Linked DNA regions of Homo sapiens. The protein of the gene in region 1 purifies or fractionates together with the protein of each later gene. This does not show direct contact. Each region holds a gene or a part of one and is shown in the gene's direction. Other genes may lie near its edges.

Region 1 (2,667 bases):
TCTGAGGTGGGAGGATTGCTTGAGCCCAGGAGTTCAAGAACAGCCTAGGCAGCATAGCAAGGCCTCGTCTCTACTTACTTACTTACTAAATAAATAAATAAATAAATAAATAAATAAATAAATAAATAAATAAAATTAAAGCCAGGTGTGGTGGCACATGCCTGTAGTCCTCGCTACTCAGGAGGCTGAGGTGGAAGGATCGCCTAAACCAGGGGTTAGAGGCTGCAGTGAGCCGTGATCGTGCCACTGCACTTCAGCCTGAGTGACAGAGTGAGACCCTGTTTCAAAACAAAAAATGAAAGTTTTAATATGAAAAATTTCAAATCCCAGCTACTCGAGGTTGAGGCAGGAGAATTGCTTGAACCTGGCAGGCAGAGTTTGCAGTGAGCCGAGATGGCGCCACTGCACTTGAGTCTGGGCGACAGAGGGAGACTCCATCTCAATAAATTTTTTTAAAAAAGCAAAAAGCTTTTCAGAGAGAGCAAGAGAGCTTGTTATGTTTTCCAGGCTGACCTTGAACTCCTGGGCTCAAGTGATCTTCCTGTCTCAACCTCCTGAGTAGTTGGAACTATAGGCATGTGCCACCATGCCCAGCTGAGTGGTGTTTTTTTGTGTTTGTTTTTGTTTTTTGTTTTTAAGAACTATATATAAAAATTCGCTGACCATGGTGGTTCACACCTGTAATCCCAGCACTTTGGAAGGCCAAGGTGGGCAGATCACCTGAGGTCCGGAGTTCGAGACCTGCCTGGCCAACATGGTGAAACTCTGTCTCTTCTGAAAATACAAAATTAGCTGGGCGTGGTGGTGCAGGCCTGTAATCCTAGCTACTCGGGAGGCTGAGGCAGGAGAATTGCTTGAACCTGGGAGGTGGAGGTCGCAGTGAGCCGATTATCAACCTACTGCACTCTAGCCTGGGTGACAAGAGTGAAACTGCATCTCAAAAAAAAAGAAAAAAGAACTATATATAAAAATTTAATGGATAAGACAGCTAAATATAAAAAGTGAAACTACATACTACTAGAAATAAAGTGGGTAAATTCCTTTATTACCTTGGAAAAAAGAATGCATGTGTATATGTATGTGTGTATTCCATATATTCCATGTACTCAGATGACCCCTTCTTAAACATAAGGTAACATGCATACTATATTTAGTATTCTGCATCTTATTTTTCCTCATTTAACAGTACATCCTACAGTGTTCTGCCTGCTTCCAGACGAGCAAGGAGACTCATGGTCTGGTTCTTGGACTTCCCTAACAGCATGGCCCCTAAACGCCAGTCTCCACTCCCACTTCAAAAGAAGAAACCAAGACCACCTCCTGCTCTGGGACTGGAGGAGACATCGGCCTCTGCAGGCTTGCCGAAGAAGGGAGAAAAAGAACAGCAAGAAGCAATTGAACACATTGATGAAGTACAAAATGAAATAGACAGACTTAATGAACAAGACAGTGAGGAGATTTTGAAAGTAGAACAGAAATATAACAAACTCCGCCAACCATTTTTTCAGAAGAGGTCAGAATTGATCGCCAAAATCCCAAATTTTGGGGTAACAACATTTGTCAACCATCCACAAGTGTCTTCACTGCTTGGGGAGGAGGACGAAGAGGCACTGCATTATTTGACTAAAGTTGAAGTGACAGAATTTGAAGATATTAAATCAGGTTACAGAATAGATTTTTATTTTGATGAAAATCCTTACTTTGAAAATAAAGTTTTCTCCAAAGAATTTCATCTGAATGAGAGTGGTGATCCATCTTCAAAGTCCACCAAAATCAAATGGAAATCTGGAAAGGATGTGACGAAACGTTCAAGTCAAACGCAGAATAAAGCCAGCAGGAAGAGGCAGCATGAGGAACCAGAGAGCTTCTTTACCTGGTTTACTGATCATTCTGATGCAGGTGCTGATGAGTTAGAAGAGGTCATCAAAGATGATATTTGGCCAAACCCATTACAGTATTACTTGGTTCCTGATATGGATGATGAAGAAGGAGGAGAAGATGATGATGATGATGATGATGATGGTGATGAAGGGGAGGAAGAATTAGAAGATATTGATGAAGGGGATGAGGATGAAGGTGAAGAAGATGAAGATGATGATGAAGGGGAGGAAGGAGAGGAGGATGAAGGAGAAGATGACTAATAGAACACTGATGGACTCCAACCTTCCTTTTTTAAAATTTTCTCCAGCCCTGGGAGCAAGTTGCAGTCTTTTTTTTTTTCTCTTGTGCTCAGTCACCCTGTTCTTCAGCTCTCTTTTCTCTACTCCATGGTTCTCAACTTATTTGGGGGGAAATACCTTGAGCAGAATACAATGGGAAAAGAGTCTCTACCCTTTTCTGTTCGAAGTTCATTTTTATCCCTTCCTGTCTGAACAAAAACTGTATGGAATCAACACCACCGAGCTCTGTGGGGAAAAAGAAAAACCTGCTCCCTTCGCTCTGCTGGAAGCTGGAGGATGCTAGGCCCCTGTATAGTAGTGCATAGAATTCTAGCTTTTTTCCTCCTTTCTCTGTATATTGGGTTCAGAGAGTACACTGTGTCTCTATGTAGGTCAAAGGGACAATATGGACAGTTAGCATTTACCAACACATATCTGTCTACTTTCTCGTGTTTAAAAAAAGAAAAAAAACTTAAAAAAATGGGGTTATAGAAGGTCAGCAAAGTGT
Region 2 (3,658 bases), on another chromosome or scaffold:
CTGACAATGTGTCAGAAATGAAAATCACTGACTTTCTCAGCTCTTAAATTTTTCCCCACTATTTATTTATTTATTTATTATTTTTGAGATGGAGTCCTGCTGTGCCACCCAGGCTGGAGTGCAGTGGTTCAGTCTCGGCTCACTGCAAACTCCACCTCCTGGGTTCAAGTGATTCTCCTGCCTCAGCCTCTGGGGTAGCTGGGATTACAGGTGCCCACCACCATGCCCGGCTAATTTTTGTATTTTTAGTAGAGATGGGGTTTCACCATGTTGGCCAGGCTGGTCTCGAACTCCTGACCTCAGGTGATCCACCTGCCTCAGCCTCCCAAAGTGCTCAGATTACAGGCATGAGCCACCGTGCCTGGCCTCCCATTATTTAACTCAAAATAATAATAATAATAATAATAATAATAATAATTATTATTATTATTATTATTATTATTATTATTATTTGAGATGGAGTTTCGTTCTTGTTGCCCAGGCTGGAGTGCAATGGCTCGATCTCGACTCACCGCAACCTCCGGCTCCCAGGTTCAAGCAATTCTTCTGCCTCAGCCTCCTGGTTAGCTGGGATTACAGGCATGAGCCACCACACCCGGCTAATTTTGTATTTTTAGTAGAGATGGGGCTTCTCCATGTTGGTCAGGCTGGTCTTGAACTCCTGACCTCAGGCAATCTGCCCGTGTCAGCCTCCCAAAGTGCTGGGATTACAGGCCTGAGCCACCGTGCCCAATCCCTTCAAATTTATTTTGTTTCTACTACAAAGTCAACTTGATTTTTCTGTCTCTCTTATCATTTCTTATGGATCTCTTCACAATTTGTAATATGTTTATCAGCTTGTGAAATATATTGACATCCTCCCATATTCTGATTTCTCACTGATGTCATACAAAATGACAACTATCTTATTTCATGTATTTATTACTGGAATTACCATTTGTCTTTGTGGTAAATTTTGTCTGGATTCATTCAATGTATATTGTTACTTTCCTCACAAAATATACCATCAGTTTTTCCCTTTTTTTTTATCATTTATTCTATGAAATGGAAATTTCTCTTCTTTCAGGAACTGTCACAATAAGCCCTCATCTGGTCTTTTCAACTTTCTCTTGGAGAAAATTCTTGATAATTTCCACTTGATCTAGTCTCCTAATTGTTGTTCATGAATGTAGGGTTTGTCATCACATAGATACTTTTCATTGTGTTGTGTTCTCCCTTTATACTATATCTTTTAAGTCTCAAGATTTCTCTGTGAAATCTTCCTTGATTACTGCACATCATATCTACCTTCCTTTTTTTCTGAATTCCTGTCCTAACTACTGACTATAACACAAACATGCACAACTCTTGAATAGTCATATAATTTCATTCCTAATTGTTTTTGCTTAAGGATTTTTAAGGATGCTTAAGGATTCTTTCCCTCAAAAATAAGATCCCTTTTGAATCTTCATTTCTTTGAAGGAATCAAGCATTCTTAAGGATTCTTTTCCTCAAAGATAAGATCCCTTTTGAACCTTCATTACTGTGGTATTATTTAACATGTTAGGTATTCAGTAGTTACTGTGTTAATTGCTTATGGAGCTATGTAAGGGAGATATCTTTTCATCCATTCAGAAAGCATATACTAGCAAGTTCCTTTTAGATGTACCTACTCATGCTGTGTCCCTACAGATTGTGCTTGAAGTGGTTGCATTCTGCCAGACACCACCTAACTATGAGTATGCAGTGATCATGTAAAATTTTTTTTTTTAAGATGGAGTCTTGTTCTGTCGTCCAGGCTGGAGTGCAGTGGCACGATCTCAGCTCACTGTAAACTCTGCCTTCCGGGTTCAAGTAATGCTCCTGACTCAGCCTCTGGAGTAGCTGGGAGTACAGGTGCATGCCACCATGCCCGGCCAGCTTTTTTTGTATTTTTAGTAGGGACAGTTTCACCATGTTGGCCAGGCTGGTCTGGAACTCCTGACCTCAGGTGATCTGCCCGCTTCGGCTTGCCAAAGTGCTGGGATTACAGGCATGAGCAACCGTGCCCAGCCCAAAAGAGTTTAAAGATCACCAATAAAGTATTTATTTCTATGAAGAAGGATCACTATCGAGTCTGCATTTTTCATGAAATATTTATGTCAAAGTGTAAGGTTGTTAAAAGATTTGTTAACAGAGTTTTCCTAGGCAATAATTATATTGCAAATTTTAAAGAAGTAGAGCTTAAAATGGTAGGGGAAACATATGAAGGGTTTATGAGATCATGGAATGGTATGATTTCTTTGAAGATTCTCTAAAGATAAATAGAAATAAACCTGGAAGGCAAGCTAATTAATTAAAAGAATGTGTGCACAAGTGTGTTATTAGGAATAAGTAAGGTATATATAGGGCAGTAAGTATCAGGCCTGACTGAGGCAAAAACTACCTGTTATAAACAGGTGAGATCTGTCAGGTATGTGGACAACCCTGAAAACTTGTGAGAATATAAAAAATGAATCTAGACAATATAGTTTTGTTTACAGGAGAAATTCCTTGTATATGTTAGAATTGAAGTTCTTGGACTCAATGAAGAAATAGATTTTTGAGCATAGCTTTAACATTGCTTCATCAGATATAGATGATTGCAAGGTAAGTAAAGTTAGAAATAGCTATACTTTTATAAGAGAAATGAAGGTTAAAGTTACTCTGATTTAGGACCAGATTGTTCAATCTACCATTTGAAATTGGTATTCTGATCTACCATATGAAAAACTGGAATAAAGGAATGTTACTGCATTGGGGAAGGATGTAAGCCAGTCTTAAACCTGGAAAAGTGAGTCAGTAACTGAAAAGAGGACTAGGCATGAGAGCTTTGTTATTGAACAATTCTGAAAGAAGTGATTTAGCAGCAGTCTGAATATAGCAATTGAATATATTCTGATCTTTTTTAAAGTTGCTATCGGAAGTATTTTCCTAATTTTCCATTCATAAGAGAAAATAATACATAATTATGTAGAGGATTAGAGCATAGACTGTAGAAAATGAATTGATAATTTAAAAGCTAAATTAATCAATGTTGACTACATAGAAAGAGGAGGTGGGTTGAACAGCTGGAAGTGTTTTACCACAGTCATCTAGGGATGTGTGTATAAAAGTATTGGTGATCAGCCGGGCACAGTGGCTCATACCTGTAATCCCAGCATTTTGGGAGGCCAAGGTGGGCAGATCATGAGGTCAGGAGTTCGAGACCAACCTGGCCAGCATGGTGAAACCCCGTCTCTACTAAAAATACAAAAAATTAGCTAGGCGTGGTGGCACATGCCTGTAATCCCAGCTATTCAGGAGGCTGAGGCAGGAGAATCGCTTGAACCCAGGAGGCAGAGGTTGCAGTGAGCCGAGATCACGCCACTGCACTCCAGCCTGGGTGACAAAGCGAGACTTTGTCTCAAAAAAAAATAATAATAATTATTATAGGTGATCTGTGTCCTCCAGAAGTAATCTTTCCTCTAGTATTTTCGCTAAACAAAGATTTCTGCTAATTTTTCTTGTCCATCCTACTTACATTTTAATGCTTTTGATAGGTTCACTTCATTTTTTCTGAACACTTATCTAACCATCAACCCCCTTCTACCATTCTTTGACTTCTTGGTTGGTTTCACTTTCTCTAAGAAGTTTTAGTGCAAAATGCAAAAGGTATTAA
Region 3 (3,658 bases), on another chromosome or scaffold:
TGTTGATTAATTTCCAGATAGATTACTTAGATTATTAAGCAAGAACTGTATTTGAAATTTGGTTAAGTTTTTCATTTGGTTATCTTTTGTGACTAGTTCCAAAGAGGTGTTTGAAAGCTCGAGAACATTTTGGTACAGTAAAAACACATCTAACATCTTTGAAGACCAAATTTCCTGCTGAACAGTATTACAGGTTTGTAAGAAAAATAGCATTATTTTATAATGTTAAGTAAAAAAAAGGAGAAAAATTATGTGTACCAAATGATTGCTTACAACTAGGCAAACATCCTGTGTAGAAGTAACAAAAAGAGAAAAAACCGAACTAATAATGGTCATGACAAAAATTGGTGATTTTATTTTTTTCTTCTTTTTACTGTCTAAATCTTAAGGAACATGTATTACTTTTGCAGTGAAAAAGCAATTAAAAAGAAAATGTGGTATGAGGGTCAAAAGTGAGAATATCTTTTTGCTATATTCAAGTTTCTTGTGAAATTGGATGAACTATAGTTAGTGAAATAATGAGATTAGGTGGCAGTATATATATGGAGTCGAGTTTTACTTTGAAGCTTGAATTTCACTGCCAAGTGATGTAATTAGCTAATATTTTATGCCATGTTTTCTTATTAAAATCAACACTGTTGATTTTAAGATACACCATTATTTTATGTACCAGTAGGGAAGGAAAATTTTGCCAGTCATAAATGTGAAACATGGGCCAGGCGTGGTGGCTCACACCTGTAATCCTAGCACTTTGGGAGGCCTAGGTGGGCAGATCACCTGAGGTCAGGAGTTTGAGACAGCCTGGCTAGCATGGCGAAACCCCGTCTCTACTAAAAATACGAAAATTAGCCAGGTGTGGTGGCTTATCCCTGTAACCCCAGCCACTTCAGAGGCTGAGGCAGGAGAATCGCTTGAACCAGGCAGGCGGAGGTTGCAGTGAGCCAAGATTGTGCCATTGCACTCCAGCCTGGGCAACAGAGTGAGACTCCATCTAAAAAAAAAAAACAACTTGTGAAACATGGATTGTGAAATGTCTCCTGGTTTCATAGGTGTTAAACTGGGAAAAACTGCACCTGAATCAAAAGTTTCTACTTATTTTAATTTTCTTACTGAAAAAGATGTTCTTTTAAGACGTATATATCAGCAGTAAATAGGATGAGTATTTTCAGGGGGTGGGTAGTATAACCTTATGAGAATATTCTTTTAAGGGAGAGGTTGACAAACCACTAGTGGCTGCTGCCTCTGGGAGCTAAGAATTGCTTTTGTTTTTTCAAGAGTTGTTAAAAAAAAGAAAATCCCAGATAAGAATATGTAACAGTGAAAGCGTCCCACAAAGCCTAAAATATTTACTACTTGGCCCTTTACAGAAAACATTTGCTGATCCTTGCTGTAAGGCAGGGGTTCCCAACCCCCAGGCCATGGACTGGTACTGGTCTGTGGCCTGTTAGGAACTGGGATGCACAGAAGGAGGTGAGCGGTAGGTGAGCGAGTGAAGCTTCATCTGTATTTACAGCCGCTTCCCATCACTTGCAGTACTGCCTGAGCTCCACCTCCTGTCAGATTGGTGGCAGCATTCGATTCTCATAGTAGTGCGAACCCTATTGTGGACTGTGCATGCGAGGGATCTAGGTTGCATGCTCCTTATGAGAATCTAATACCTGATGATCTGAAGTGGAACAGTTTCATCCTGAAACCATCCGCCCCCCTTCTGTGGAAAAATTGTCTTCCATGAAACCAGTCCCTGGTGTTGAAAAGGTCAGGGACTGCTGTTGTAATAGCTGAAGCACAGAGAGAGGTAGGACAGTAGAACAGGTGGGGTCTTTAGAGACCATCTTCTCTGGAGGTCACACACAGGCTGCCCTCTGGCTGGATTTGGCCTTCAGAAGGGTTTGTGTGACCTGCATTATGTTGAGACCTTTTTTTTGAATGTATTGCCACATTTGAGAATCAGGAGGCATTGCATAAATATCCACAGGTTGTAAAATTTCCTTTTTTCAGGCTTCTAGCTCAGTATTCTATTTTAAGTGCATTTGTTTAGTGATTGCAAATGGTAATTTTGTGAATCAGAATTTTCTTGGTATTCTGCACTCAAATCAAAATGGAGGAATACGTTGAGGATGATACATAACTGCAGTTGTCTTCAATCATCAGTTACAAATTTTTATTTTTTTCAGAGCAGTATCACTGTTCTTACTGATTAAATTTAGAAGGCACAATTGCTCTTGTCATCTGTAATCTTCAGTTTTCTTTTTTCTGTCTTTTTTTTTTTTTTTTTGAGACGGAGTGTCGCTCTGTCGTTCAGGGTGGAGTGCAGTGGTGTGATCTTGCGCACTGCAACCTCTGCCTCCCAGGTTCAAGCAGTTCTCCTGCCTCAGCCTCCCGAGTAGCTGGGACTATGGGCGCCTGCCACCACGCCTGGCTAATTTTTGTATTTTTAGTAGAGAGGGGGTTTTGCCATGTTGGCCAGGCTGGTCTTGAACTCCTTACCTCAGATTGATCAACCTGCCTCTGCTTCTCAAAGTGCTGGGATTACAGGCGTGAGCCATCGCACCCGGCGTAAATTTTCATACTCATCAAAATTAGACCATATTTGTCACTGATTAAACTTAATTGTTATAAATTCGAACTTGTAAAATTAATGCTAAATGTCATATTTCTCTTTATATATTGGGGGTTTGTGTAAGATTTTATTTGAAAAATGATCGCATTTCTAAACCGTTTGAACATGGCTGTATTAAACCCATCTTTCTGAAGGTCCCTAACCTTGGAGGCTAAATGTGCTTATTTTCATGCAGATTTCATGAGCACTGGAGGTTTGTGTTGCAGCGCTTGGTCTTCTTGGCAGCATTTGTTGTGTATTTGGAAACAGAAACACTAGTGACTCGAGAAGCAGTTACAGAAATTCTTGGCAGTAAGTGTCTTTATTAGTGGGATCTGCAGAATCAGGCATGGTTGCTTACTTTTTGGTGGAAAGGGTGGTTGTACTTTGTTTATTAAAACAAACAAGAATTAACTAAAAACCACTTATAGTTGTAGCTTGGTATCTGAGGATGATGCTTCCAGAGCTCTTCCAATACCCAAATCTGAGGATGTTCAAGTCCCTTATATAACTGGTGTAGTATTTGCATATAACCTATACACATTCTCCCACATACTTTAAATCATCTCTAGATTTCTTAAAATATCTAATACAGTATAAGTGCTATGTAAATATTTTTTTTTTTTTGAGACAGAGTCTCTGTCGCCCAGGCTGGAGTGCAGTGGTGCAATCTCCGCTCACTGCAACCTCCACCTCCCAGGTTCAAGTGATTCTCCTGCCTCAGCCTCCCGAGTAGCTGGGATTACAGGTGCCTGCCACTATGCCCAGCTAATTTTTTGTATTTTTTTTTTTTTTCCGAAATGGAGTTTTGCTCTTGTTGCCCAGGCTGTAGTGCAATGACGCAATCTCAGCTCACCACAACCTCCACCTCCTGGGTTCAAGCATTTCTCCTACCTCAGCCTCCTGAGTAGCTGGAATTACAGGCATGCACCACCACACCCGGCTAATTTTGTATTTTTAGTAGAGATGAGGTTTCTCCATGTTGGTCGGGCTAGTCTTGAACTCCTGACCTCAGGTGATCCGCCTGCCTCAGCCTCCCAAAGTGCTGGGATTACAGGC

The links.
Region 2: the proteins of SETSIP (region 1) and ZNF567 purify together in Homo sapiens (co-immunoprecipitation; one large-scale study listed by IntAct). This does not show direct contact.
Region 3: the proteins of SETSIP (region 1) and TSN fractionate together in Homo sapiens (co-fractionation; one large-scale study listed by BioGRID). This does not show direct contact.

Annotation. Positions count from the first base shown.
Region 1 is NC_000001.11:92,074,007-92,076,673, reverse strand, and holds SETSIP (protein SETSIP), read left to right. Parts: upstream 1-1,262; coding exon 1,263-2,141; downstream 2,142-2,667. UniProt on the Homo sapiens protein: Plays a role as a transcriptional activator involved in the early stage of somatic cell reprogramming. Promotes the differentiation of protein-induced pluripotent stem (PiPS) cells into endothelial cells and the formation of vascular-like tubes (in vitro).
Region 2 is NC_000019.10:36,715,094-36,718,751, forward strand, and holds part of ZNF567 (zinc finger protein 567), read left to right. Parts: intron 1-3,658.
Region 3 is NC_000002.12:121,758,614-121,762,271, forward strand, and holds part of TSN (translin), read left to right. Parts: intron 1-96; coding exon 97-193; intron 194-2,795; coding exon 2,796-2,911; intron 2,912-3,658. UniProt on the Homo sapiens protein: DNA-binding protein that specifically recognizes consensus sequences at the breakpoint junctions in chromosomal translocations, mostly involving immunoglobulin (Ig)/T-cell receptor gene segments.